Linked DNA regions of Homo sapiens: region 1 is linked to region 2. The links come from fine-mapping of genetic effects on gene expression. A gene starts in region 2. The other region holds a variant in brackets. All regions are shown on one strand. Distances are from middle to middle.

Region 1 (2,921 bases), 40 kb before region 2:
TTTAAAGGTATGTTTGCTCTTTTAAGAACTGGGAACTTATTGTTTAAAGTATTTTTGGTGCAAGGGTCAGGCTGCCAGGAAAGCAGTGGGCATCTGCTTGTGGTTCTTGGGGTTTTACCCAGTGTCTGCAACCTCTATTTAGTGCAGGAAGAGAGTGTGGTCCAGCATCTACCTGCCTATCAGGAGTCTTAAGGGCCCAAACTGGTAGAACACTGAGAGCTTTTTCTTTATTATGGGAAATGATATGCCATATGATATCATTTCATTATATAACCTGCTAGTAAGTTACTATATTAAGAGCTCACAATTAGTAAACTTTGGTATTTCTACATTTGAAATAGCACAATACTGGAGCTTATTGAGAACAGTAATTCAGGATTCTGTGAAAGTCAGCGTCCACTAAATATTTCACAACACTGCAAAACTTGCACCGCTGCTGCACACAGGCAAACAGTATGAATTCCCACAGGGCTTGGCCAAGACACTGTGTCATCAGTGCATCCATAGTGTTATCTACAGTTTTTAATTGCCGCTATTCTTGCTGCTTAATCATCAGTCATTGTTGGTCCCAACTCTTCTTACTCTACTTTCTTTTATATTTGATTTTCCTTTGTAGAAAAATGTCTTGTGAGTTTGGGACTCCCCAGAAGTAGAGATGTGGATGTGAGTGCAAGTGATTTGCTTCGGGAGTGATCCCAGGAAACAATGGACAGGAGTGAGGAAATAAGACAGGAAAGGAGGAAAATTACTAAAGGAGTGTGCTAATGTGCAGAATTGCTGCTGTGGGTAACTGGGGCTCAGGCCCTTTGGGACTCTAGGGAGACTTTGCAGGACATTCCTCAATGTTGTCCTACCCAAGAGGTGAGAAGTTGGGATATTTATCCAGCATTTCCTGTCTGATGTCTGTTGAGGGCTGCTTCCTGAGGCATCAACTCACAGATTCTTCCAGTCTGCCCTGCACGCTGAAACACGCTCCTGCAGCCAGAGAAAATCCTCAGGGAGAGCACCAGTACTTGCTGAGAGGCTGTCAGTGAGAAAAAGAATCAGAAGAGACTGTTAATGGAATTGGGTGTACATGGGACCTCTGACAGCATCTGCTTTGGATGCATACTTCCATAAACAGCAGTTAGGGCCCACAGTCTTCTAATCACTTGACTTTGAAACACACGTGTTGCATTTCAATGTGTTATATAAGATCAAATTGCTGATCAAATTGCTAAGTATTCAGTGAAAACTATACGTAAGGATGTGATCTTAAAATTGAAACCTGGATAATGGGAAGAACCCAGCCATGTGAACAGCGAGGGGAGAGTGGTCTTAAAGTCTTTCCTGTTGCCCATTTATTTTTTATTTTATTTATTTTTATTCTTTTAGATACAGTCTC[G/C]CTGTTGTACCCATGCTGGAGTGCAGAGGCATGATCATAGCTCATACAGCCTCGAACTCCTGCATTTTGCCTATTTAAATTCTGAGCCTAGAACAAGGAAATTTAAATCCTGGATTGCTTGAAGACTGATTCTTGGCAATCACATTCTCATTCAGAATAAAATTGTTTTTAGCCATCTCCTTCAAAATAAACTTTCAAATTTTCCATTTGATATCATTATAATGTTCACGTTCTCTTGTCTAGTCAGTTTCTCTATGCCCACTATTCGTGAAATTTCCCCATCTCATTTCCCCAAACACTGCTTTGACAGTTTCTTTTTTCCACGCTAGGTTTCTCTAAGCCCCCTCGGATTTGCATAGAAACTATAGTTCCTTAGATAAAAATAAAACCTTATTTAAGACCCAGAAAATCTCAATCCCCTATGCCAACAGCAAAGAGGGCAATTTGGATACCTGAGCCTGGACTTGCTCAAATCTTTCTAGTTACAAACTTGCCCCCACTGCTTCCAGCATCTCAGGCAAAAGGTAATTCCATATCTCTTAGACACCAGTGTTGAAATTTTTTAGACTCTTAATGTTCTCTGAGTAATTACATGGCATGAAAAAAAATCAGATGAGTTTTTGAAGAGATGACTTCTCCCCAAGGCCCTGAGTCACAGATTTTTTTTCTTTCTATAGAGTCACTGTCAAAATTGTGAGTCATCCATTTCTTCTTGCCAGTGCAGCACACTCCCAGGGGACACGTGGCTTCACTCCTGAACAAGTTCAGTAAGCAGTGCTGGAGAGAATACTGAAAACGTTAAAGAATTATGAATACAGCTCAGATCTCACTTTCCTGTTTTTTAGATTTTGGGAATTCATTCAGGTGGAAACAGCATTTCTTGCCATCACATGATGGGGGTGTCCCCCTCTGCCATGTTTCCCATCAGTTCTATCTTCCTCCCTTCCAGTTTCTCTGGACATGTCTGACTTTTGAAAGAGTAATTTTCTCCAACATGTATTTTGAATTATCTTCTCTGTACATAATTATTTTCTATCTCCTAGAAATTCTTCATAATTTTTGTTCCTCTAATGGAAGATTTTAATTTTTTATGTACTATTATGCATTATTTTAATCAGTTTTTTTTGCTAAGGCTTTACAGTGAGAGTAGGTACCTGTACTCAGTTTGTAAGTTGATAAAAATTTTTAATAGCTCACTATACATGATTTATTTTTGCATATCCAGCAACACAATGTTGGCTTTCAATAAAGGTTGAATGAATAAAATGTTTAAAGCATTGCTTTTTAAGAAGTTCTAACCTAGTGAAGTCATAAGCAAACTTGAAAAATGTGTGTTAAAATAATTCTAGGTATCAGGTTTTCTAATCTTGTATGCAAAATCTTATATCAATTTAGTTGAATTTGCTTATACAGTGTTAGCAAGAAAAACAATTAATACATAAGCATATCTTCGCATAGCTGCAACAGAAAAAAAAGAAAACGCCCTCAAAACTATAAACCAGTATTTTAATGTATGTATGATTCCTGCTTGATGCAT
Region 2 (2,921 bases):
TGCTCCTACATAGGTAATGATTAGACTGAATCAATGCCACTTGATTTGTGAAAATAAGGATTTCCCAATCAGGGACTTCAATGTTGCCTCTGTTAGCACCCATCTCTAACGGAGAATTAATTAGCAGCTACAGTGATGAATTCAGTAGGTCCATGGGTCGGTTTCCTGTGGACTGCCTCCCTCCCAGCTAAAGCCCTGAAGTGCTGGGGAGAGGGCAGCACCCTGTATAGTGTCCTTCACAATCAACTGCTAAGACTGACCAAGAGCTCACCCCACTGCAGGAAATCACACAAGTGTAGCCCTTGGGTCCTGGGTTCCTTGTAAATTGAGCAGCATATAGGATCCTCCACATACAAGCACACCTGTACTTTTCCCCAGCATGACCCTGGGCCACCTTAGTCACATCTAACCATCTACCAAGGTAGTGGAATAGAGCAGAATGTCTTGACTTGAGGTCCATGTTCGGGGTCTGAATACTCGGAAATTACATGAAAATCTGTGGGAATCTGTGTGTGTTCAGGTCATTTAACTCTCAAAGGGGGGCTGTGCGACAAGGAAGGATCATTAGAAAGAGGAATGGAGGAAGACAAGCTTGGTACAGTGGAATGTAGGGTTTGAGGTGGGGAAATCCGTTGTGATCCTCCCTTCCCTGTATCATTATTTACACAAACTAGTTGGATATAAATATGGATATGCTACCTACCTAGTTTTTACCTCAGTTTCTGCATCTGTGAACTGGCAATAGCAATGGTGCCCACTTCATGGGACTGTGTGAAAAGGAAATGAGATATGATCCTTGTAAAACATTTAGCAAAGTCCTTCAATATAGGCTCCTTATGAATACACCAAACTTTTGCGGGTTTCAGCTCACCCACAAGTGTAAGCGATAGTTTACATGTTGGGGGTTCTCTACTGTGCTTTCCACTTTTTAGTCTCCAGAAAAATCTGGAGAAGAGAGGAGTGGAGGGGGTAGAGATGTAACGTCAAAGGAAAAGCCATGTGTCATGCTCACCTCTTAGTCTTCCGGGCGATCAGAAGCCAGGGATCTCTGGGCACCTATGTGCCTGGGCCTGCTGGGGCGACCGGGGAGGCCCCTGCTCTCGTCCTCTGACGCTCAGCGCTGGCCCAGCCGCGACCTTGGGCTCCCGGAGCCCGGCGGAGGCGCCCAGGCGTGAATGATGTCCCTTGGGTAGGGCTGGTGAGCTGGCGCGCGGGACAGCAGGGCTGGGTGTATGTGTCCATGGGCCCCGGGTCCCCGGAAGGCGAGCGCGCGGGCAGGTGAGCGCAGGGGGCGGGGTGGAAGCCGGAGGGACCGGGCTGATTGTGAGCTTCCGCCACGCAGGGCGCGGCTGCCGGGGCAACCGCAGCGTGCGCGGTGGGGCGGTGCTCGCCTCCGCCTCCGCCTCCGCCTCCGCCTCCGCCTCCGCCTCCGCCTCCGCCTCCGCCCCCGCCCCCGCCTCCGCCTCCGCCCCTCGCGCCTGGCTTCGACGCCAGGTGGCCGGCCTGGGCGGGATGGGGTAGCTGCGCTGGGTGTTCCAGGGCGGAGCGCAGAATGCTGCTGTCTTGAGGATTCCGCCCTTCTCTCATTCTCTTCTCCCACCTCCTGCCCTGGGTCAGAACGTAATTTAGTTATAAAATTAAAGCTGCATATGGCAATTAAAAAATGAAGTAAAATATACAATAAATATTTAGTTTACAAAGTACAATTAAATGAAAAATACAATAAATTACACAATAAAGCGAAAGTGAACCTACTCTCAACTGCCACAGATTCTTGCAAATCTTCCCAGAAATTTTCTTTCCATACTCTAGGATGCATATATGCTTAAAAAATATTTATACACAAATGGAAGCAAATATGGAGATCACTTTATTTCAGGGCCTACAAATGCACCATAACACCCCTCTCTCTCCCTCCACACATGCTTTTTGGCGGAAAATTCTGAAAGCTTTGGTTTGATTATGTGAATGTAAAACATATATATGTGTGTCTATATATATATGCTTTTTAATGCAGTATGTAATTGCTTCCAATTAAAAACAGTAATTCCTTACACCAGCCTACCCTATTCTACTCAGAGACTGTTTAAAAATGTTAAGAGCGAAGACATGGAATCAACCTAAGTGCTCATCAATGATAGACTGGCTAAAGATAATGCGGTACATATACACCATGGAATACTATGCAACCATATAAAGGAACAAAATTATGTCTTTTGCAGGAATATGGAGCTGGAGGCAATTATCCTTGGCAAGCTAACGCAGAAACAGAAAACCCAATACTGCATGTTCTCACTTATGAGTGAGAGCTAAGTGATGAGAACACATGGACACATAGAGGGGAACAGCACACACTGGGGCCTATTGGAGGGTAGAAGGTGGAGAGTGGGAGGAGGGAGAGGATCAAGAGAAATAACTAATGGGTACTAATCTTAATACCTGGGTGAGAAAATAATTTGTGCAACAAAACCACATGACACAAGTTTACCTATATAACAAATCTGCACATGTACCCCTGAACTTAAACGTCAAATAAAAAATAATAAAAATGTTATTAAGGACTATTTCATGCACACCAAAATATACTGTATGATATATGGAAAGTACATACCATACCATACCATAGCTAAAGAAATACCATAGCTAAAGAAAAAGAAAGCTAGGAAAAATAAAGGAAAAAGGAAAAGGAAAAAAAAGTCTGCCTCTACTGCTGTACTTATATGTATTTCTTCCCAACACTGCATCCTCCTCTTCCTGTTCCCAGAGATAATACCTGTTCTGAATTTTACATTTATCATCCCAGCCTCTTAAAAATGCATTGCTACATTGAATGCCTCCCTAAATAATGCATGTTTAATATTGCATATTTTGAGAATTTATAAAAATGTGGTAGAATGTTGTGTATTGTTTTGATGACTTTT

What was found. PIP is the estimated chance that this variant, and not a neighbour inherited with it, causes the effect. A credible set is the group of variants that fine-mapping cannot tell apart.
Region 1: its variant is the best candidate, but not a certain one, in a credible set for the expression of ANKEF1 in fibroblasts (GTEx, PIP 0.89).

Annotation. Positions count from the first base shown.
Region 1 is chr20:10,073,842-10,076,762 of GRCh38, reverse strand. All of the region lies in intron 3 of SNAP25-AS1 (SNAP25 antisense RNA 1), which reads left to right. Among named protein-coding and RNA genes, the nearest start is that of ANKEF1, 40 kb to the right of the region's middle. RefSeq lists an enhancer at 1,198-2,397. The variant G/C (reference allele first, on the strand shown) is at 1,385.
Region 2 is chr20:10,033,425-10,036,345 of GRCh38, reverse strand. ANKEF1 (ankyrin repeat and EF-hand domain containing 1) reads right to left here and starts at 1,359. Exons shown (of 11, transcript NM_022096.6): 1 at 1,013-1,359; 2 at 704-767. All of the region lies in intron 3 of SNAP25-AS1 (SNAP25 antisense RNA 1), which reads left to right. RefSeq lists a silencer at 1,019-1,568.